Homo sapiens: one gene and its partners. The protein of the gene in region 2 interacts with the protein of the main gene of each other region in a pairwise test. Each region holds a gene or a part of one and is shown on either strand. Other genes may lie near its edges.

Region 1 (7,770 bases), on a different chromosome or scaffold from region 2:
GCCCATTGTATCACCAGAACCTAGCATGGTGCTTTACTCAAAGTAGTCGGTTAATTAATAATTAGTGAATCAATTGGATCAATTTGAATAGTTTCTTTGCCTAAGTACTTGTAAAGCATTTTGATGTATTTTCTCTGAAAAGCATATTAATTCATTTGAAAATATATTTATTTCTTAAAAACCACATTAGCAGACTCCGTCTCAAAAAAAAAAAAACCACATTAGCACCTTAATTGTCCTATCTTGGGGTTATTTTTCTAAATTGAGGCTAAGTGTTCACCACTCTATTACTACCAGCTCAGTAAAAGCTTCCCTTTCCTCTCTATGCTGTTTCCATCTTTGAGTGATTCAAAATATGCTCATGTTGCATGTGTAGTGAAATATTTTTAAGATTGTAGTTTATAGAGTAACTTAGGGCACAGTGTGACATTCTTTTAAATTGGCATGATCTGAGAGAGAATTAAATTTGCTCATTTTTCACAGTACAAGGCCATCAGAAAGGTTGTCTTTCACAGGCACTATCACTTAGACTTAGAAGAGGGACTAGAGGGAAGAAGCCTAGCCTCAGGTACCCGGTGAGGAACACGCATGGTCCATAGTGGCATCAGGATATTTGGGACAGCAGTCTAGGGAGCGAGCCCAGCCTAATGGGAGCTTTGACACATACCGTACTCAGAATTCAGAATCTCCACTGACTCTTACATTTATAGGGGTTGGCATTCCTCAGCCCACACCCCTACTCCCCACCTTGGCCATTCTTACTTTCTCCATTTGGCTCCTATGCCATGGAAATGAAAAAGATAGCACCTGCCAAAGCCTGATGTCATCCAAGTTTCTGCACAAACACAAGATACCATAAAACTAAACCAAAGAAAGCACAGTGGCAACGTAGCATTGTATTTTCATTATGTTAGTTTGTGGCACCTATCTGATTCTCCTTCGGTTCACCTTGCCTTAGCGTTATTAAATGCGGTAGCTGAAAGAGAATTTGGAAATGATTTCTTCTCACCTCCTCATTTCATGGAGAGTAAATGGAAGTCTACAGTGGCTAAGTGACTTACACAATATCACATAGCTAAATGGTGGCAGCTAGAGGACTTGAACCCAGATCCTCCCACTCTCGGGTGAACCAGTACATATTTTTCAATCAGTCAAGACTTTCCTATTTGGTACCTACCATGCATCTGACTATGCTCCTACGTGCCATTAAAAAATGGTCATAAAATATAATGTCCAGCATTGCAACTCTTTGGAAAGAAAAACTCAGTTATAAATGCATGCAAGCAAGAGACCAAAGAGTTAATCAGAAAAGAAATAATTTTCACATAAAGCGATCTTTCTTCCTTTCTTCATTGTGAGCTGAGAGAGGATTGTAGCAATACAGGTTGAGCAATTTTCTTTTTTATGAATCTCGTGCTCAATTTATGAAAGCCATTTTGCAACCCATTTACATGCAGTAAACCTTTGCCTTAAAGTTCTGTCATTTACCTTGATCATGATTATTTATAGTCCTTTTAGACAAGGCTCTTTACTGGTTTAGCTCTCAAGCACAGCACTGTCACAAGCCAGTTTTCTACGTCTTTCAAGGCAGGGTAGGAAGCTAAGACAGGGCCAGTCTTGTAGCTCGCTGTGAGGAATGGGGGCTTTGGGTAATGGGAAGAACACTAGTTGGCATCAGGAGTCTTGCATTCGCAACCTCTGCACTCTCACTCTGTAATCCTGGCCATTTATGCTTCTTTAGTTTCAGTTTGTTCACTTATAGAAATGGAGCGACACTTTCATCACAAGGCTATAAAGTGGAGTTGAAGTGAAGTACTTTGTGTGCAAGTTATATTGTAAATAGTGAAGAGTAAGTTGTTTTATGAACTAATTATCTATAATATGAACTATAAATCATTGAAAAAGGAATGGTGTGTCTAACCTAAAATATTTCTTGATTACCTGTGATGTTGTGCCTCCTGTAGAGCATACAAGAATGGACCAGGGACCTTTACTCTTGGCACATAGGAGACTCTCAATCAGTACTTGTTGCATTAATGAATAAATACAGTTTCTGGGTGAAAGTCAGTATCCTAGGCGTAGTGTAGAATACAGGACAAATGACCATCATCCCAAGCCTCAAGGTGCTTACAATTAAGATGGTAGCCATAAATGTGCAAAGAGCCAGTAAGGTAAGTCATGGTTCTACACAAGAGAAGAAGATATGGTGTAAAAATGTGTCTGAGGCCCTCACCAGAGAATTGGTACAGCAGGAGCCTTTCCTCTTCCTACCTCTGGGTGAGTTTATCTACCTCCAGCCTCTCTTGCCCACCCATGCACTCTTTGTATCAGCCATGGTCCCAGCAGGACTAGATGCCCTGCTGGGCATTCAGTTTTACTGAAATGCATGTAACAAAGGGGATTACAGAGATTCGGGCAGAATTTTGGAAACCAACAACGGGTGGAAATGCACCCAGAGAGAAGCAATGGCAAGAAACATTACCACCCAGAGTAGCAAAGGGCAAGGCAGATCCTGGCAGAGAATGACAGCTAGAGCTAGACACAAGAATCCTTGTCCACACCAAGTCCAGGAGGAGTCTGTGAAAGTCTAATCCCTTGGGCAACTATCAGGCCAGAGTCAGCAGGAGTAAACAAGGAATTGCATGCATTCGGCACAGACACTTTCTGTGGGGTTTTTCATGAGGGCCTAGGGGAGGAATTCTATCCATCTAAAAGCCTGGCTTTCTGAAGCTGGGATCTGTCACTCTTTACCTTTGAAAGTAGCATGTGAAATGAGTGTGAAATGGCTCAATTTCTTCCTTGACTCCTCGGCACCTACCACGCACAGCCTTCACAAGGTACAGAACAGGAGAAAATGGATTATGCCCTCAACAATAAGAGGCGAGTCATCCGCCTGGTTCTACAGTGGGCTGCCATGTATGGAGACCTCCTGCAAGAGGATGACGTGTCTATGGCCTTCCTGGAGGTAGGCAGGGGTCATCTCTTCCAAGAATATACTGTTGTCCTGCAATACAGGGACCTACTTATAGGCTCAGCAGCTTCCCTGGAGAGACCGTAATTGCAAATGCTAGACTTTGTGAACACATTCATTCATCAGAAAGGAACTACAGAAAAAGTAAGGAAAAAATTTACCCATTATTCTGCCATTCTGACTCCCTAATGGGTAGCATTTTCATGTATTTTCATCTAGTCTCTTTTTCTTTGTATGTTTTATCTTGTAGTCACGTAGCACCCATCATTCTGCAGGCTGCTTTTTCCATTTATTTGATATAAGGATTTTTCTGTCAGTACAGTCCTTATAATAAAAATTTATTTACATCTCCTGAAGTAATCAAAAAAATATCTAATGACCATTGAGTAGCCATGTCACAGATATATTTATGTGTTCCCTTATTGTTGAGTGTTCACATCATTTCCAGTTTTCACCTTCCTAGAATAGTAGTACGGTAAAAAGTCTTGTGCAAGTGATTCTGTCCTTGATTACCTTCCTAGAAATGGGATTACTAGATCAAATGGTAGATATTTTTGAGTGGAGTGGAGCAGATCATTTATTTAGGAATTGCTAGAACTGGAAATGGTAGGCTGTGAAAGTGGTTCATAAACACTGTTGAAAGCTGCACTTCCCCGTTCCTTCCCGTAGCTCTAGCCCCAAATTACAGCACTGATTCTGACATTTAAGCTCAATTAGTCGCTCTCCCCTCCAAAATTTGGATGAAGACCTGACTTCTGTTCAGGCAAAAGGCAATGTTACTTCCGTTTCAAACTTTTTCAGTCTGTGTTCTAAAATTATAAATTATCCAAAAGAAACATACACCGTCTCTCCTTTCTATTCATATCATTTCACAGCCAGAGGTGCGAGGCAGTGAGGAAAGATGGACCGAGAGCATCCCTCCAAGCTGAGGAATGAAGTATTTTGAAAATGCGAGGAATGGCGGTAGCTTGGGGTCATACATTGACTCATGGCCTCTACCCGCTGAGTACAGGACCATTTTGTAGATGAACTAAAGTGGTGGTGTAGCTGGCACTGCCATGGTTCTCACCTTCTGCTGCAGAGCAGGCACACCTACAGCTGCAGGGTCAGGACAGTTCCCAGAAGGGCATCAGAGAGTCCTGAGTTGGTGGCACAAACTCATCATAAATTCGCTACAGTGCTGAAGACCATGCTGCATCTTACCACCAACCATGACCCAGAATGAGTGACACCTAGTCAATAAACAATACATACCAAAATAATGTGAAAACGAACATTAAAATTCCCCTGAGAAAAATGAACTAAAAAAAGCACTCTTTTGTGGACTCCAAAATGACCCATTTCAAAACATTGGCTTTCATATAAATATCATATAAACAGTTCACCTGCAATTTACTTTGAATTGAATTTTTATTGTTGTAAAATAGATATCTAATATAAATTTTCCCATTGTAACCATTTTTAGGTGTATAGTTCAGTGGCATTCATTTCATTTCTGATATCCGTGCAGTCATTGATTGCCACTATTTCCAAAATTTTTTCTCATGGCCAATTTTGAACTTAGACATAGTGTAACATTTTCTTCTTTGTTCTTCCTCCAGTCCATGAAGCCATGGTCTGGAGATGCTGGTGAAGCAGATGACATAGGGACACATCTTTATTGCTCTTGACAGAATCATGTGCCTTTTGCAGTTCTTGTTAAAAGCCTGTGACTTTTGCCAATTACAGGAGTTTTATGTATCTGTATCAGATGATGCCCGGATGATTGCTGCCCTCAAGGAGCAACTGCCAGAGTTGGAGAAGATTGTCAAGCAAATGTAAGGAAGGGCTTGACTGTGGGGGTGTGCTTTCATCAAGTAAATCTCAAAAAGTCCTTTGCCCACAAGAAAGGTTAAAGCTGGTCTTTCCATAGCCATGCCCCGCTTGATTTGATTTAAGCAGACTGGGCTGAGGGCATAGGTGGTGCAGTAAGGCCAGAGGAACAGAAGGACTGAGATTCTGTTCATTCTGTGCTAGAGGGCTGCCAAAAGATAGCCTGGGAAAGAAAAGATCCTCCTGGGTGGAGTCCAACTCAATAAACCTGGGTCCCTTAGGTTCAAGGCAGTGAATCTGGCAATAAAATGGCCAGCGGCATTTAAAGAAAGTTTGAGGGCAACTACTTATATGGAAAATTCACTAACTGCTGCCAAAGCTGTTGGTGGTGAATATTTGTGTCCTCTCAATGAACCAGAAGGTTTTCACATGCTATTACTTGAACTATAGATTAAATGCAGTATCAGAGAGTGAGTGTGCTGCTAGATAGACTTTGAAAGCTAGAAATCCTGGCTTTGAACATCGGTTCTGCCAGGAATCTGCCTGTGACAAGAGCTGATATCTTTGCTGTCTACCCTTCTGCTTTGATCTATTACTATTAAAATGAGGAAGCTCATATTGTCTCCTGAAAGGATTCTGTGATTGTGATTTCATTTTCTAACATAAGATTAGTTATATACAAATAAGGCAATTTAATAGTAGCAATGGTATTAAATAATGTGCTTTCTCTACTTCTCGTAGCTCAGAAGATGCAAAGGCACCACAAAAGAAGGTAGGTGGCATGAACTTGCATTCTCTGTCTGTGTCCTGTAGAATTACAATTCCCCAGAAATATTATATTGCAGTATACATAAAAGTGATTTCTTTTTTGTAGACGTGAAATATATTGTCTTCATTTCTTGACTCTGCTTGCTTCTCAGATGTGTCTTCTCTGAGATGCTAGCATGCATTGGTCACTGTCCCTTATGGCACTTGCTGTGGTTGTTTTTACAGCACAAGGTTCTTTTGCAACAGTTCAATACGGGCGATGAGAGAGCCCAGAAGCGCCAGCCTATCCGCGGCTCTGATGAAGGTGAGAACCCTCTTCCAACTAACTCGTAGTTGTATAGATTATTTAGTCAGGATAATGGTAAGCATCACCTTGGACCCACAGAATAGCTTCTTTTGAAGATGCCCTGTTGCCCTCCAGATGGTTTGCTTGGAGGTGCCCTTTGGTGGCCCGATTATTTATGTCCTTAAACTCTTGTGCCTGAAGCCGAGATGCCTGTCTACCTTTCCCTGATTTGGCCTCTCCCTGCTTAACCCCTTTCCTTGGAGGAAATGAAGATGATCTCAGGGCCTGGTTGTCAGGATTGCCCACCCCTGGGAAAAGCTGGTGGGAAGGTAGCTGGCGCCTAGTGGGTGCCAAGGAGACAATGGATCACCAGCATCCTGCCCAGGGACAATGCTCTGGCCCTGAGCCCAGCCCTGAGCAGGGAGGCTTTACATCAGGAAGATCAAGATGCTGGCTTTTGTTTGGTTATTTAAGATTCTCCAAAGAATCACAACCAAAAATAGTCACAATAATAATGATAAAAATTTCATTTAAAGCTATAAATAAATCTTGTCATTTAGGACTGCCTCTAAACCCAGGAATTATAATATAATAATGGGAATTGCTCCCAGGATTTTTGTGTTCAGAGTTGAGCCTCTGGGTGCCATATCCAGATCTGCTGATCTAAGTCTGCTGAGCTAAATAGCATCCGAGCTTACATGGCCTGGCCCCAAAGCACACAAGCCACTGAAGCAAGTGAGCAGGAGTGTCAGCACGTGCTCATGGCCCAGGCGGAAGCCCTCCTGTGTGCAGAGAGGTGAATGGTGTCTCCCCACTGCCACACAGGGTAGCAGTGATCTGTGAATTGCCTACAGTATAGCACTTCAGACCCTGAACATCAGCCTGAAGATACTCTCAATTTTTTCCCATGACCTCTTTGTGGGGTTTTCACCAATATCTCTTGTTCTTTTAATTGGACTTGGCAACCATATGTGCACCTATTCTTAGACCAATGCTAAGGTAAGCAGTTTAGAAGGGGCAGGAATAGGGGTAAATGAGTATGAATAAATACAGTAACAAAAATGGCAAAATGATGCAAATTGGAGAGGATGCCTAAACATTTTTCATAACTATAGTTTTATTGAAAACTCTTAAGAGTGATTTACTACCTTGTTACTGCCTTTGGATAGTTCTGTTTAAGGTCTATTGCATGGACCACACCTACACAACCATTCGGGTGCCAGTGGCCACTTCGGTGAAGGAAGTCATCAGTGCAGTTGCCGACAAGCTGGGCTCCGGGGAGGGCCTGATCATAGTCAAGATGAGTTCCGGAGGAGGTAACAGTCTTAATTCATATTTTAGGCTCTGCAAAATGGGACATTCCATCCAAGCAGAAACTATGTAAGGAGTTAGCGTGGTCATGTGAGGCTCACCCAGAGGATGAACTGGTGCTTATGTATGCTTCCACTAATAACAGAAACAGTATGGGTAGAGGTGGGTTGGGTTTCTAATGTCCCCTATCTGGTAGGTACCCACTCTAAATCAGAAAGGTGACTGGAACTGAGGACTGTCGTGTAGATGTTGGCCTGGAGTTCTTTCAATTTAAACTCTATTCAAAAAAGTTTTAGGCCTTGGAGCCCTGAAAAATATGGGCCCCAAGAGGAAATCTAGCTGGACAAGCTCAAGGCCATGGGTTTCTACAAGTCCAAAGTTGGAAGTGGTCAGAAGCTAGTTCTTTGAAGCTGATGATGGTTTTTCTCCTTACTCAGTAGAGAGGCTAGGAGCCTGGCTCAAATGAAATGAGGAATATTTTTCCTCCACGGGATTACAGTTCCTTTCACTGTCCTTGATTACATGGTGCATTTTTGAAATGTCATTTATTCGTTCATCACATATTTACTGGCCACAGTGTGGCTACGAAGGAAAGAATGAGTTAGACACAGCTCACGTCCCC
Region 2 (7,770 bases):
CTCTTTCTCTGGTTCTGTCTGTCAGACGTTTGGCTGGTCTGGAAGAGCAGTGGCTCACACCTGTTAATCACTTTGGGAGGACAGGGTGGGAGGATCACTTGAGGCCAGGAATTTGAGACCAGCCTGGGCAACATAGCGAGACCTCATAGCAGTCAACCAACAAACCAACAACACTTTTAGCTGGTCCGTGTGTTAGTGTGTTGTTCTCATGGAGCTTCTGGCCTCCTCTTAATTCTCAGCCACTCTTGCCTGGAATAAAGTTTCTGCAACATGCAGCTGGGGACAAAGAGAAATTCTGGCAGCCAGCCTGCCCCTCCCAGGAAGGTATCATAGCCCTAGGCTTGAGCTGAGGGGAGGGGAACCCTTGTTTGGGGTTCCATCTGCCAGGAGAAGAGCTTTCTTCTCACTGACACTGTGGGGGTGGGGAGGGAGTGCATCATATGCCACAGACCCTCACGATTCTTACTGAGAGTTAGATTTTCTTAGATAAATGTTCTCCATTTTAGAATGTCCTTAGCATAATTTCTAGAGACTTTTAAAGGTTTTGTTTTTTTAACAATAATTTTCACCAGTTATGGTTGTTTTGTTGGGGAAAGGGTCTGTGGAGCTCCTTATGCCACCCTTCTAGAAATTGGTTCTGGTAAAAGTTATAATGAATAATGTATAAGATGAAAAAACTGTACAGAAAGAGCTCAAGAAATAGCTCTCAAATCTCATGAATGTGGCTGGGCATGGTGGCTTACACCTGTAATCCCAGCACTTCGGGAGGCTGAGGTGGGCGGATCACGAGGTCAAGAGATCGACACTATCCTGGCCAACATGATGAAACCCCGTGTCTACTAAAAATACAAAAATTAGCTGGATGTGGTGGTGTGTGCCTGTAGTCCCGGCTACTCGGGAGGCTGAGGCAGGAGAATCACTTGAACCTGGGAGGTGGAGGTTGCAGTGAGCCGAGATCGTGCCACTGCACTCCAGCCTGGCGACAGAGCAAGACTCAGTCTCAAATAAATAAATAAATAAATAAAAATCTCATGAATGCAATCCCAAGTGAATTTAATTCAATGACTGTACTAAAACTTTCTTTGCAAAATGTTGTTCAGGCTTATCAATAGTCTTTCATTTACCTAATTTATTTTGTATGTTGATTCAGCAGATCGTTAGACTGGAATTCTAATGGAGCTAAAAGTTTTTATTCTATTATCTTTATTGAATGTTAAGAATGTTTGGCTTTTCCTGTACTTAAGTATGACTGTCTCTCTCTCTTTAATGTACTTCTACTCTAACACCTGCTTTTCTGTGGATGGGTTTTTGATTGGCTAGAAACTGGAGGAAGCAGCATCTCGTGCAGCAGAAGAGGAAAAGAAACGCCTTCAGACTCAAGTGGAACTTCAGGCCAGGTTCAGCACAGAGCTGGAAAGAGAGAAGCTTGTGAGTATCACATGGCTGGAGAAAGCAGCTGCAGTAGCTCAGCCTGGGTCGGTGGGAACAGGGAAGGGCTGGAGGCTACAGTGAGGCATGTCATCAGCTTGGCTTTGCTACTGACCTGGAATGGGCTGTAGGGGAAGTTGCATGTTTGTTCATTCATTAATTATCTGTTTATTGAACACCTTCTATGTGCCAGGCAGTGTGCCAAAGATGTAATGGCAAAAGACATAAACCTTGTTTTCAAGACTCCTAAGTGGAAATTTATGGAGCCAGGCATGGTGGCCCACTCCTGTAATCCCAGCACTTTGGGAGGCCAAGGCATGAGAATTGCTTGAGCCCAGGAGTTCAAGACCAGCCTGGGCAATATCTACAAAAAAAAAAAAAAAAAAAAGAATTAGCCAGGCCTGTTGGTACATGCCTGTAGTTCCAGCTACTTAGGAGGCTGAGGTGGGAGGATTGCTTGAGCCCAGGAGTTCAAGGCTACTGTGAGCTGTGATTTTGCCACTGCACTCCAGCCTGGGTGACAGAGCAAGGCCCTGTCTCCAAAAAAGAAAAAAAAAGAAATTTGTGGAATGATGTGATAAATGCTTGGTTAGGGTGACTATATTTCCTGGTTTGCCTGGGAGAGTCCCTGCCATTCTGGTATAATTATTAATAACATTCCTTTTCATTCTCAAAACAGTTCTGATTTGGAAAATAAATAGTTATGGAAAAAGTAAGCATAGGTTCCATGGTATATCTCCTCTGTAATAAGCAAGGATGGCGGGGGTGAGATCCTGAAATTGTGAGAACATCTAGAGTCTGATTTGTTGCTCTTGGCAGCTCCGGTTCATCCTAGAGGCTTCCATCTTCAAGAGACCCAAGATCCAGGTTGTCTTAGGTAGTTAGCTGGTTAGCTGGAACACAGGTCTTCTCACATTGAGTGATACTCTGTCAGAGAGTGCTAAGCCCAGTGCCTAAATAGATGCATGTGACATTTCCTCTAGTCACTTTTTGTTATTTAGAGTTGAAAGAGATGTGTTTGTGGTTCAGAGAAAAGAGGAAGGCAAATGTGATGTAGAGAAACAGCCAGAATGTCTGGTCTTGTTTCCTCTCTGGTCCTTCTTACTGAACATTGGCTTTTTCTTCTTTAAGTTCAGGATTATCACATGCTCTCTCATGACTCTTCTGAAGACAGAGTGAGCTAATGCAAGTGAAAATATTTTATCAACTGCAGAGAAATAGGCTAATGTGTTTGTTATATTTAGGATGTTCTTGTCTTGTAATTTTTAAGGCAGGGATTCAAAACTCTGTAATCCAGAAGGGAAAAACCATTAACGTATACAGATTAACTGAAATGCTTGAGTTCCTCTAGGGCTGGAGGTGCCCCAGGGAGTGGAGACAGCCAGGGAAGTGTGGGAGGAATCCCATGCTGGATGACCTTTCCTTCTTCTTTAGTGTAACACTAAAGAAGACTGGGAAAAGGTTCGTTTGCTCTGACTGGGAAAAGGTTCGTTCCTTTTAGAGAAGACCCTATTGGTAAAAAGATTGTGACTTTAAGACAGAAAGGAATTTAGAGAGAAATTACACAAGGAAACATTTTTTTCTTGACTTGAGTCTTAAAATGTGGAGTGGAAGGGATGGAAAATACAGCAGGGCAGAACATAATTTGGGTTATAATTTGCTCTTCCCAGACTCTTTCACTATTGCGATTGGGTGTGGTACCCTCATCTCCTCCATCTTTAAGTTCAAGGATTGAAGGACAGGGTCCTGCCACCCTGATGGGCTGAGGCTGCAGCTGTGGGCAACCCCTCAGGTGGAGGTGAGGCTTTCCCTGAGAAAGAAGTCAACCTGCATTTAAACAAGACCCTTTTATACCAACAGATCAGACAGCAGATGGAAGAACAGGTTGCTCAAAAGTCCTCTGAACTGGAACAGTATTTACAGCGAGTACGGGAGCTGGAAGACATGTACCTAAAGCTGCAGGAGGCTCTTGAAGATGAGAGACAGGCCCGGCAAGATGAAGAGACAGTGCGGAAGCTTCAGGCCAGGTGCCAGATTTGTTTGCAGACTTTGCCTTTATGTACTTTGCCTGGGCTAATACAGTTTCTTGGAATGACTAACACTCTGGTGGAGAGGGAGAAGTGTCTCTGCTCTGGCTGTGACTGAGCTCGAGGTGCTGTCCAGATTAGAAAGACTGTGGAGACTCGACCGGCTGGAGTGTTTCTTTTCATTCTGAGGCGCTGGGAAACCCTTGCTTCTGGGGCTAAATAAGGGCCTATTTTAGAGCAGTCTGGTAGGTATGTTTGATGAGGTACCCTTAGTCTTATTCGAGAAAATCCACAAACCCAGAATTACCTCTGATAAGAGCTTGGCATCTTCAACACGCTCCAGACCAGAGAGGGCCATTGGTATGCAGGCAGAGGCCTGTTCAGGCCAACGTTGCCGTCAGGTTTTGAGGAATAAGGAAGAAATATGCAGTTTCTATTTGGTCATTCAGGATTGGTAACATTCCTTCAGTAATTACTACTTGAAATCCTAATTTTAAAAGTATTTGAAACCTAGATTTTTTTTCCCCTTAGAACTTTATGATAGTCATGTTCGCAGATGAAAATTCTCAATTTTGGGCCTTCATGGCAGCAGGGAGGACAAAATAAAATGAAGACTCCCAAAGGGAAAAATTGAGCCTATCCTCTGCCAGTTTCTACTTTGCTGCCCCATTTACATTATTTAAGGTGTCTGGGATGGGAGACAACACTAAAAAGTATTCACTACAGTAGCAGCACAGGGTCCAGTCTTTGATCTCTGACCCCCTGTTTTGGGGAGCAGTTATGAGATGAGCTAGGGTAGATTTTCCATGGCTGCCATTTTACATGTGGAGCAGCAAAAGATGTTTCTTTAATCTTTAGATAGGAAGAGAAAGAAGAAGCCATCTTTAGTTGTATATTTTGCCAAAAGTGACTTCAAAAATAAATAAATTGTTTTGGACATTTAGATTTTAAATTTAAATTTTTTTAAGGAAAAATTATTTTCTAAATAGAAAATTAAGCATGTAGCATATTGCCAGGCATATATAGGCCCCACAGGTGCACATTCACTGCACTGTGAGGTTAATCAGGTTCTTGGAACTCCCCTCCAGTGCCACTCGGCAGTGATTTTAGCAGAAGAGTCACTCTACGGGAATGTTTGAGTGCCATGTGACGTCCAGAGTGACGTTCTACATGACACTCAACATTTTTTGAGCCACCTCATAATTTGAGCCGTGTTGAGAGTTAATAGATTGTTTTTGTGCAAAGAATTCGCAGGTGAAATATGCTATATGTATTACTGCAGTTTTGTGGGAAGTTGATTATGACACAGCAGAGACTAGATCACAGAGGGAACCAGATAATTCTAGAAATACTAGTCTTAGTTATTTAGTGTTTATAGAATGAGTGATATTTTGAATAAGGGATAATTTTGGATAATTGAAGCCAGTGGTTTTTTAACCAATGTTATGTATCAGAATCACCTCACAAAGCTTCTGAAAAATACACCACAAAGTGTGGCTCACCCACCACACTTTGGGAGGCCGAGGCTGGAGGATCACTTGAACCCAGGAGTTTATGACCAGCCTGAGCAACATGGTGAAACCTCATCTTTAAAAAAAAAAAAAAAAAAAAGTCTACTTGGGAGGCTGAGGCAGGAGGATCACTTGAGTCCAGGAGGTTGAGGCTGCAGTGAGCTGCATTTGCACCACTGTACTACAGCCTGGGGGACAGAATGAGACCCTGTCTCAAAAAAAACACAAAACAACAACGGCAAAAAACTCCAGCTAATTATTTTGCACACTCTGATTTAAGCAATAGCAAAATGGTTTCAACCTTTTGAATCCAGATGTAACTTCTACATACAGCTCTGATCCAATATGCTGAAAGTACTGCACACAAATTTAACTTTTTCTTAATGTGCAAAGGGCATTTTATGAATATAATTATTTTATTATTCTAAATTTTTTTTTCTCTTAGTTTTTGGAACCTGAAATGGACAAATTTGCCCCCCTGCTCCCTTTTTTTTTCTGAGATGGAGTCTTGCTCTGTTATCAGGCTGGAGTGCAGTGGCGTGATCTCGGCTCACTGCAATCTCCGCCTCCTGGGTTCAAGCGACTCTCCTGCCTCAGCCTCCCGAGTAGCTGGGAGTACAGGCGCGCACCACCACACCTGGCTAATTTTTGTATTTTTAGTAGAGATGGGGTTTTGCCATGTTGGCCAGGATGGACTCCATCTCCTGACCTTGTGATCCGCCTGTCTCGGTCTCCCAAAGTGCTGGGATTACAGGCATGAGCCACCACGCCCGGCCTAGTGGTCATTTTTAAGTGAAATGTGTTCCTCTTTCCTGAAGTCACTGAAGGCTGTGGCTGATTCAGAGGGACTTTCTGTCAGATTGGCAGAGAGGGTTTGTTCTTTGCTCCTCAGGATAGGCCTTTCTGGATAGAAAAATCAAGGGAAGTCATCCTGGAGTTGGGTTGGAAAACTGGCACTAATGAAATGCACATAATCTTACGCCAAGGGCCTGTGTAAAAGGCTGCTCAGTTAACTCTTCTCACTCCTTTTTTTTTTTTTTTAATTTTATTATTATTATACTTTAAGTTTTAGGGTACATGTGCACAATGTGCAGGTTTGTTACATATGTATACATGTGCCATGCTGGTGTGCTACACCCATTAACTCGTCATTTAGCATTAGGTATATCTCCTAATGCTATCCCTCCCCCCTCCCCCCACCCCACAACAGGCCCCGGTGTGTGATGTTCCCCTTCCTGTGTCCAAGTGTTCTCATTGTTCAGTTCCCACCTATGAGTGAGAATATGCGGTGTTTGGTTTTTTGTTCTTGCGATAGTTTACTGAGAATGATGATTTCCAATTTCATCCATGTCCCTACAAAGGACATGAACTCATCCTTTTTTATGGCTGCATAGTATTCCATGGTGTATATGTGCCACATTTTCTTCATCCAGTCTATCATTGTTGGACATTTGGGTTGATTCCAAGTCTTTGCTATTGTGAATAATGCCGCAATAAACATACTTGTGCATGTGTCTTTATAGCAGCATGATTTATAATCCTTTGGGTATATACCCAGTAATGGGATGGCTGGGTCAAATGGTATTTCTAATTCTAGATCCCTGAGGAATCGCCACACTGACTTCCACAAAGGTTGAACTAGTTTACAGTCCCACCAACAGTGTAAAAGTGTTCCTATTTCTCCACATCCTCTCTAGCACCTGTTGTTTCCTGACTTTTTAATGATTGCCATTCTAACTGGTGTGAGATGGTATCTCATTGTGGTTTTGATTTGCATTTCTCTGATGGCCAGTGATGGTGAGCATTTTTTCATGTGTTTTTTGGCTGCATAAATGTCTTCTTTTGAGAAGTGTCTGTTCATGTCCTTCGCCCACTTTTTGATGGGGTTGTTTCTTTTTTTCTTGTAAATTTGTTTGCTCACTCCTTTCTTAAAGCAACAGCCGATCATTCGTGGAATATTTGGAATCTCATTATTCTTTTAATGGATAGTTCTTTCTCTGTCAGTCTCTTAAAAAGACAGTGTCTTAAAAAAAAAGAGAAACTTTTTATAGTAAATTGTTTAAATGAAAGACAAGAACTTTAGCTTGAAACACGTAGATCTTGTAATTTTTTTTTTTTTTTTGAGACGGAGTCTCGCTCTGTCACCCAGACTGGAGTGTAGTGGCGTGATCTCGGCTCACTGCAAGCTCTGCCTCCCAGGTTCAAGCCATTCTCCTGCCTCAGCCTCCTGAGCAGCTGGGACTACAGGCGCCTGCCACCACGCCCAGCTAATTTTTTGTATTTTTAGTAGAGACGGGGTTTAACCGTGTTAGCCGGGATGGTCTTGATCTCCTGACCTCGTGATCCACCCGCCTCGGCCTCCCAAAGTGCTGGGATTACAGGCTTGAGCCACTGCACCTGGCCAGATCTTGTAATTTTAAAAATTACGATTGAAGTTTTTTATTAACTTTTAATTTTTGTGGGTACACAGTAGGTGTTTATATTTGTGAGGTACATGAGATATTTTGATACAGGCATACAATGTGTAATAATCACATCAGGGTAAATGGGGTATCCATCACCTCAAGCATTTATCCTTAGTCTTACAAACAGTCCACTATACTGTTTTAGTTAGTTTTAAATGTACAATTAAATTATGATTGACTATAGTCACCCTTTCTGCTATGAAGTTTATTTTTTTATGTGTAATCCTGAAGGTGATCTAGCCACTTCTGAATGAGAACTCAGAAGAAAACTGTTCATTTAAAATGTAGAATACTCAAGTTATTGGCCGGACATGGTGGCTCACGCTCTAATCCCAGCAC
Region 3 (7,770 bases), on a different chromosome or scaffold from region 2:
ACTCTGGGTCATTCACCCCCTCGCACCAACCCCCACTTGAATACTGCCTTTCAGGTCCCAAGGAGCCCCTGACTTCTGACCCCTGACCCTAATGCCCCATATCACATTCCCATGCTGACCCCCACCTGGATGCAGCCAACCAGACCCTGAGGAGCCTCCTCTGCACTGCCGGGGGGCAGGCCTCCCACGTGGAGCTGCTTTACCTTCAGGCCCTGCAGCTCACTCCCCACCGCCATGGTGTCCTGGAGGAAGTGGGGCAGTCAGCACTGAGGGAGAGGGGCCTGATGAACCCCTGTCATAGCCCAGAGTCAGTCTTGGCCTTCTTCTAGCCCTTCTAGGCTGCCCCCTCCCTCCTGGACCCACAGTAGACCTTAATATTGCTTGATTTTGACCGGGGGTGGGTAGAGACTGGGGCAGAGACTAGAAGGGGCTTCTAGGAATCAGGCAAAGTGCTGGCTACAGAGGTTCCCCAAGACCAGGCCCCAAATCTGGCACAAAGAGGGCTTGAGAGTGGACCAACTTGGCTGGTGGGTGGGCTCAGTGCAAGGATATATGGTGGGGAACTAGGGGTAGAACATCAGACTCAGTGCAGTGGAGGGAACTGAGAGGAGCTGGACTAGAGGTGGGGTCAAATAAGGCGGATCTGGTTGGAAGGCTGAGAACAGACTACCCCGGGGTCAGAGGCCAGACCTGGAAGAGGCTAAAGTCCAGTGAGACCATAAGGACATGGTGGCCCCGCCGGCCACCTGGTTCCTCCTGCAACTCCAGCCGCAGATCGTGCCACCGGCCATCACTGACAGTCACCTGGTCCAGAAGGAGATGGGAAGCACGGCCCGAGCCCCTGGTCACTGTCACAGACAGTAACCCCCGATCTAGCTGTGGGCAGAGATGCATAGCCCTGGGGTTAGAGCCCCATGTGGGCTGGGACTTGGAGGTGAGATCAGAGGGCTCAGAGGTCAGGAATATCAGAGGTCAGAACAGTGGGGTCAAGGTTATACCTGGCACAAAGGGCACTGTGCCAGGGGACATCATGTTGCTGATATGGGGTCAGGGGGCAGAGGATAGGACCAGGTGTTGTGGGTGGGTTGGTGCAGCTTGCATAAGAGAGAGCTATGCTGGAGCCCTGCACCTGCAGAGGATATAATGATGGAAAGAGAATCAAGGGCTAGGGTCCAGAGCAGGGTCAAGTGTGGTTGGGACACCTGGCAGAAAAGTATGCTGTGTGACCAACCTGAACCCACAAGAATGTCAGTGGCGGCCTAAGAGACTGAGAACTGAGGGTATAGGGGTGAGCAGGGTGGACACACCTGGCAAAGGAGCGTGCTGTGTGGCCCAGCCTGCACTTGCATCAGGACCCCCTGCGTTGCCCGTGTCCGAAATGCCAGCCCCAGGTACCATGGCACAGACACAGCCATGTCACTTCCAAAGTTCCAGCTCAGTGTGCCGTTGCCACGGAAATGGTGGGGATGGGCCATAGCTGAGTGGATAAGAGAAACAGGGTTACAGCCCCTGCCCCAGGAACAGATCTGACCCTGCAGGCCCCTCTGCCCCATGCTGCCCACTTACTAAGCTGACAGTCTTTGCCGCCGAAGCCCACAGGGCAGTCGCAGCTGAAGCTGCCCCAGCGCTCCGAGCAGAAGCCACTGTTCTTGCAGGGGCCTGAGTCACAAAAGTGTAGCTTGGCTTGGCAGCCTGGGAGAGGAAAGCACATGGCGGACATGAGAACAAGGGTTGGGGGGCACAAGTGCTGGACAGGACTTTAGTGTCCAGAGGGGCTGAAAGAGACCAAGATCTCAGCCCCATTTCCCATTTTCTTTCGATGAGTGGGGTTGGTAAGAGTCAGGCCCTAAAATCTGGGCTGTAGCATGGTGCTTGCCACCAAAGGAGACTGGCTTGAAGTCAGGTATGGAGTCCTCCACTTCCTCCCTATGATGGGGACAGGGCCATGGGCTAGGCTGGTGGAAGCTTCAGGCCTACCTGCCATGGTGCCATTATTTGCGACAAAAGCCGCCATGTCCACTCGGCGGCCATCAATGTGCAGGTCCCGCATACAGCCGATGAAGTCCTTATGGGATACGGGGAAGTTCTCGGGGAGGTTGGGGACACCTCCCAGAAGAAGAGGGCCCGTCAGGTCCAGGGACCTGGGGATCAGGGGTCTGGGTCATTGGTGGGACTGGGGCCAGAGTAGAGTTGCTCCTGGGGGGCCACAGGAAGCAGGGGGGTAGGACCCAGAGGGTAGGGTGATTGAGGGAGGAAAATAAGGCCGAGCTGTGGAAGGAGTTAGGATCTTACTTCAGTTGGGGTGCAAAGGGGCACCCGTGATGGGCCGATGGTCTGGGGAAAGGTAGGTGAATGGGGGTTGAGAGCTATGATGAAAGAATGAGGCATCTGGCTGGCTGGGGAGGGGATGGAGACGTGAAGACTCTGGGGGACTGGACATGAGATGAAGGGACTCGGAGGGGATGTGGGACATTAGTGAGACTGGGGTGGGGAGGTGGAGGCTTTGGAGGACTGCCTGGGGACTGTGTGTGGGAGGAGGGAGTATGGGGTGGAATACAGGATTGGGGGCTAGGGTGAGTAGGCTTTCAGGGTCTTTGAGAGGAGAGGGGAATCTTGGTGGTTTGGGGGAAAGATGGGAGAGTTTGGCAGGATGGGATGAGGAATGGGATGTGAAGGGTTGGAGTGGGCTTTGGTAGGCAGGGGACAAGGGGACTAGGGGGCAGGGGCCTCACTTCTTGGAGCTTGTTTGCACACCAGCAGCCGCGCATGAGTAGTTGCCAATCTCAGCACCAAACTGCAGAGCCACGGCCACATCACAATCATCCACGCTTAGCACAGCCACCTTGTCCTTGGAGGGGCCCTGTGCACCCCCTAGGGCATCTGTCCGGGGCTGAAGACGCAGGCACACCAGTCAACAGTGCCCCCAGTAACCCCTGAGGAGCAGAAGTCAGCATCCCAACTCCCCTCATACCCGATGCCAGGGATGGCCCCCACCTTGTTGTAGTATCTCAGATGCACTGTATGCCATTGCCCGTCACTCAAGCCCCCTGGAACTGTGGGGCTGACCACGGTGTTGGATTCACCTGGAGGGGAGATGCATGTGGAATCATCAGGAGCAGCGGAGTCGCCCCATCCCACCCGTCATATAAGCACAACCATTCCCAGGGCCACCCTGGATGCATCAGATCAGTCCCCCCACTGGTGACCACAATGGCTGGCTCAGAGTGCCTTTGAACAGACAGGAGAAACAGACTTCTTGGAGGGAGGGACCTTCCCACAGGGAATGGCCAAGGAGCTAGGTCTTCAGGGCTTGCATGGCGTGGAGTGTGTGCTCAGGTGCACAGTGAAGCAAACCTGAGGGGACTTGGGCCCTGCGTCCTCCAGCACACACGCACCCTTTCGCCGTCACATCCGGGGCACCCACCCGTGGAATATGTGAGCCGCACTTGGCCAGCCACGAGTTCCAGGGCCAGGAAGTCGTGCTTCTCGTTCAGGCGCCCGTTGTAGAAGAGCAGCCCGCTCTGCTGCACTGTCGCGAACCTGGGCGGGGTGGGAGGGGGTTGCGGGGGTGGGAGCGTCAGGAGCAGGGTACCACTTCACACCCACCATCCCTGCGAGGAGAAGGGGCTGGGGCGAGAGAGGAAGCGACGAGGGACGGCGGGACCGACCGGGGGGACGCGGGTGCAGCGAGGTCAGGAGACCCCGGGCGGGGCGTCAGGGGAGGGGCGGTGTCTCATGGGGATGCCAGGACGGGGCAGTCAGGAATCTGAGTCAGGGCGGGTAGGTGGGGGCGGCGGGGAGGCGCTCAGACACGGGGCGGGCACCTACGAGAGGGACAGCGTAAGGTGGAATCGCTGCCGCAGGCCGCGAAACATGACGAACGAACTGGGCGGGAAGGAGCGCGCAGCCACCTCGCAGCGCGGGCCCTCGAAGGCGCCGCCTGCCGGGCACTGGCAGCGAAAGCCGCCGTTGGGCGCGTCGGTGCAGGTGCCCCCGTTGCGGCAGACGCCCGGCACGCAGCGGCCGGCCTCGGTGTCCAGCTCGCAGTCCTCTCCTGGGGGCCAAGCCGCGGTCAGAGGCGGTCACGCCCACGCCCGCCCCTGCTCCGGCCCCTTCAAAGACCGCGCGCCCAGAGGCCGGGTGCCAAGACCCCCGAAAGGTCGCCCTCTTCGGTGGACACGCCCCTTCCGTCTGGCCCCGCCCCCTCCCCAGTCTCATCGCTGCCTCGGCGGCGGCCCCTTCCGGCCACGCTCTACGGCTTCTGGCCTAAGCGCGTCCATACCAGGCCGTGGCCTCAGAAGTGACTCCCAGTACTCACTCGCATTGTGGTCCCGCCCCCAGCCTTGGCCCGTGCTTCCCCCAGCTCTGGCCCGGCGCCCTGCTCACCGGTGAAGCGCGGGCGGCAGACGCACGTGTAGCCTCCCTCGCGCCGCGCGCAGGCTCCGCCGTTGCGACATGGGTTGGAGTAGCAGAGGTCGAGCTCGGTCTCGCAAAAGTCTCCCGTGAATCCGGGCGGGCAGCGGCAGCGCAGGCCAGCGATGGGCTGGATGGGTCGGAACAGCGTGGAGGCCGAGGCCAGGAAGGGCGCGGACGAGTCAAAGCGGAGCACGGACACGCATTTCATGTAGTTCTCACAGGGCTCTCGCAGGCACACGTTGTCGTCGAAGGGCAGTACGTCGAGCAGGGAGCGAGCCGCCAGCGCCGCCCGGCGCACGTACAACTGCTCCTGCAGCTCCTCGGAGCTGAACCAGGGCCCTGCAGCGCCCGCCCCGGCCCCACGTGGAGCTAGCGCCGAGAAACTCACATTGAGCACGGTGCCCCCTACGTCTGTGTCGTTCTGGATGTTGAAGATGAAGACGTCCTCAGCGGGCGTAGCGAGCACCGCAGCCACGCCCTCGAGGAAGCGGCCCAGCAGCGGTGACAGGAAGCGCTCCTGCCACATGTTCTCAAGGCGCACGGTCAGGCTGTTGGCCAGCAACTCCTCCGTGATGATGACCACGCGCAGCACACACTGCGCCGTCACGCTGTGCAGGCCATCTGCAGGCGGGGGCAGGGGCAGTGGTCATCCTGGGGACAGTGGCCACCCCTCCCTGGGACACAAGAGGGCTGGGGCCAGCGATAGCCTAGGCCCCCAGAACCTCTAAGTCAGCAGGCTGACCCCACCAGGACACAAGGGAGTCTGGGGCTAGTGACCACCAGCTCCCCCAGCATCAAGGTGTCAAAAAGCTGCTGCTTCCTCCCCCAATCCCCAATACACGGAGGGGTCTGGGCCAAGGATCAAGCAACCCCACACAGTGCCCATGGGTTAGCAAGTCACTCCCGCAACAGCACTCAAGTACCCTAAGTACTCAGTAACCCACACTTCCCCAAGTTATCATGGTCAGCAGGCCACCCCAACTCAGGACACAGAGAGGAGCTAGGGCCACTGGCCACTCATTCCCAGCCACCTTTCCCTTCTCCCCTCCTCCAGCATAGCAGAACCAGCAAAACATCCCCCTCCAGAAAAGAAGGGTTCCAGATCAGGGATCACCTATCTCCTATTTTTGGTCAGCAAATTGCTCTTCCATGACACTAGAAGGGGCCCTGGCCCAGTGAAGACTCAATGCCATCCTCCAGAATCCTGGGTTATCAAGCTCCAGGGGGGTCTTGAACCCTGACATACACACACACACACACACACCAGCATTCTTGAGTTAGCAGCCTGCTCGCCACTCCAGACCTGGGTCCTGTGGTTTCACAGTGACCACCCCAGAGATGAAGGTGAGGTGCTTAGCTGCCTTGTTCGTCTTGTCCCCACACCCTAGCACATACTGGGTGGTCAATAAGGATAGACTGTTGAGTGAGTTGAGGGATAAATGAAGGTTGTGCCTTCTCAGGCAGTGCCAGGAGTCCCTGCTCCAGAACTGAGGAATGAGCACCAGTGAAGCCTATTTCCCAACCTCTGCAGCCTCCAGTAGGCAGAACTTCAAGAGCCTCTCCCACCTGCACTCTCCTATTATGGAGGGGTTTCTGAAAGACTGGAGCAGATGGGGCAGGAAAGAGGCAAGTGGACCTCTGGACATTTTCCCAAAGGTCAGGGTCTCAGGCCCTACGAAGCCACTGTCCACCTGAAGCTTCCATAGTAAGCTGCTGTTCCTGACCACTCAAGTATTGGTCATTTCCTGCACAGATAGGGTAAGCGTCAGACTGGACCCAAAGTAACCCTTCGTCTGAACATGGGCATAGTGTGGACTGACTGGCCCATACTGGCTTTGCCTAGGACCTCCAGAGGATTACCCCAGGACCTCTGACCTTTTATCAGGAGGGGAGATATCCCTAGGTAGCAGACAGTTCTTTACAGGCTTTATGGGGTCTGCTAGATGCCTTGGAATCACTGGGATTCTGTGGAGATTATCCAGGAACCTAAGCAGAGTCCTTGTGAGGTCTGTGGCAGATCTTGTAGGGTGCAGGAACCCTACCCTTAAGGGGTTCTTGGAAGGCTTAGAAATCCCTCTTTGGTTTGAGGTGCCCTGTGGAGTCCCTGAGGCCCAACAGGTTGGTGTCACTGGGTCACTTGCCTGCCCCCTGCCCCTCACCTGTGACAGTCACCAACATGGAGGCCACCAGTGGGCGGTTATTGTCTAGCTTTCGGCTGAGTCGCAGCTCCCCACTGGTCTGGTTGACTACCAGCAGCTGCAGCTCATTGCCACGCTCAAAGGAGTAGAAGAGGTGGTCGGAGACATCGGGGTCATAAGCTGGGATGCGCCCAATAATGCCCGACGGGAAGGTGTCTGAACGGTTGGATACATAGTTGTTGAAGAGGATCTGGAAGTTGTTGAGCACAGGGCTGTTGTCATTCTGGTCAACCAGGCGGACGTGCACAGTGGCCCGGCTGACCAAAGGAGCAGATGTGGCCTGCACCACAATCACATATTCTTGGCGAGCCTCATAGTCTAGGTCAATGAGTGCCGTCAGTTCTCCAGAGAAGATGTCCATTTGGAACAGCTCAGGGATGTTCCCCTCCACGATCTGGTACATTATATGGGCATTGGGGCCTTCGTCAGGGTCCACTGCAGTGATCTGGGCCACCACTGAGCCCACAATGCTATTCTCTTTCACCCGCACCTCAAACTCCTCAGCTGGGAAGACAGGTGCATTGTCGTTCACATCCTGCACCATCACCTGGATACTGACTGGAGTCCGGAGTGGGGGCACACCTCTGTCCACTGCGTAGGCAGTCAACTCATACACTGATACTGCCTCCCGGTCTAGCCGCCTTACTGTACGGACAATTCCAGAGGTGGGCTCAATGGTAAAATCTCCATCCCCATCTTCACCATTCTGGAAAGTGTACTGGACCCGGCCATTGGCATGAGCATCCCGGTCAGTGGCTGAGATCTGCAGGACACTGGTGAAAGGTGGGGCATCCTCAGAGACCAGCCCTGTATAGTGGGAGGCCACAAATTGTGGAGCATTGTCATTCACGTCATTGACCATCACCTCCACATAAGTAGTGTCTGCCTTCTGTGGGATGCCATTGTCCCGAGCTGTGATAGCCAGGGTGTAGGTCACCTGGTCCTCATAGTCTAATGGGGCCTGTAATGTAATGGCTCCTGAGTCTGCATCAATGCGGAACTGGGGCAGGTTGTCCTCCAGGAGATAGGTGATACGAGCATTCTCACCCACGTCATCATCAGAGGCACTGATGACCACTATGGTGCTACCCATTGGCCGATCTTCATTCACACTCACTGAGTAGTGGGCACTTTGAAAGACCGGCCGATGAGTGTT

The links.
Region 1: the proteins of SWAP70 (region 2) and RAPGEF4 interact in a two-hybrid assay, tested with the Homo sapiens proteins (2 studies listed by BioGRID and IntAct).
Region 3: the proteins of SWAP70 (region 2) and CELSR3 interact in a two-hybrid assay, tested with the Homo sapiens proteins (one study listed by BioGRID and IntAct).

Annotation. Positions count from the first base shown.
Region 1 is NC_000002.12:173,011,650-173,019,419, forward strand, and holds part of RAPGEF4 (rap guanine nucleotide exchange factor 4), read left to right. Parts: intron 1-2,814; coding exon 2,815-2,965; intron 2,966-4,699; coding exon 4,700-4,788; intron 4,789-5,524; coding exon 5,525-5,555; intron 5,556-5,776; coding exon 5,777-5,855; intron 5,856-7,006; coding exon 7,007-7,153; intron 7,154-7,770.
Region 2 is NC_000011.10:9,736,893-9,744,662, forward strand, and holds part of SWAP70 (switch-associated protein 70), read left to right. Parts: intron 1-1,320; coding exon 1,321-1,428; intron 1,429-3,288; coding exon 3,289-3,455; intron 3,456-7,770.
Region 3 is NC_000003.12:48,652,312-48,660,081, forward strand, and holds part of CELSR3 (cadherin EGF LAG seven-pass G-type receptor 3 precursor), read right to left. Parts: coding exon 6,576-7,770; intron 5,038-6,575; coding exon 4,387-5,037; intron 4,055-4,386; coding exon 3,829-4,054; intron 3,541-3,828; coding exon 3,425-3,540; intron 3,084-3,424; coding exon 2,995-3,083; intron 2,891-2,994; coding exon 2,733-2,890; intron 2,142-2,732; coding exon 1,978-2,141; intron 1,693-1,977; coding exon 1,567-1,692; intron 1,478-1,566; coding exon 1,308-1,477; intron 877-1,307; coding exon 691-876; intron 243-690; coding exon 126-242; intron 1-125. UniProt on the Homo sapiens protein: Receptor that may have an important role in cell/cell signaling during nervous system formation.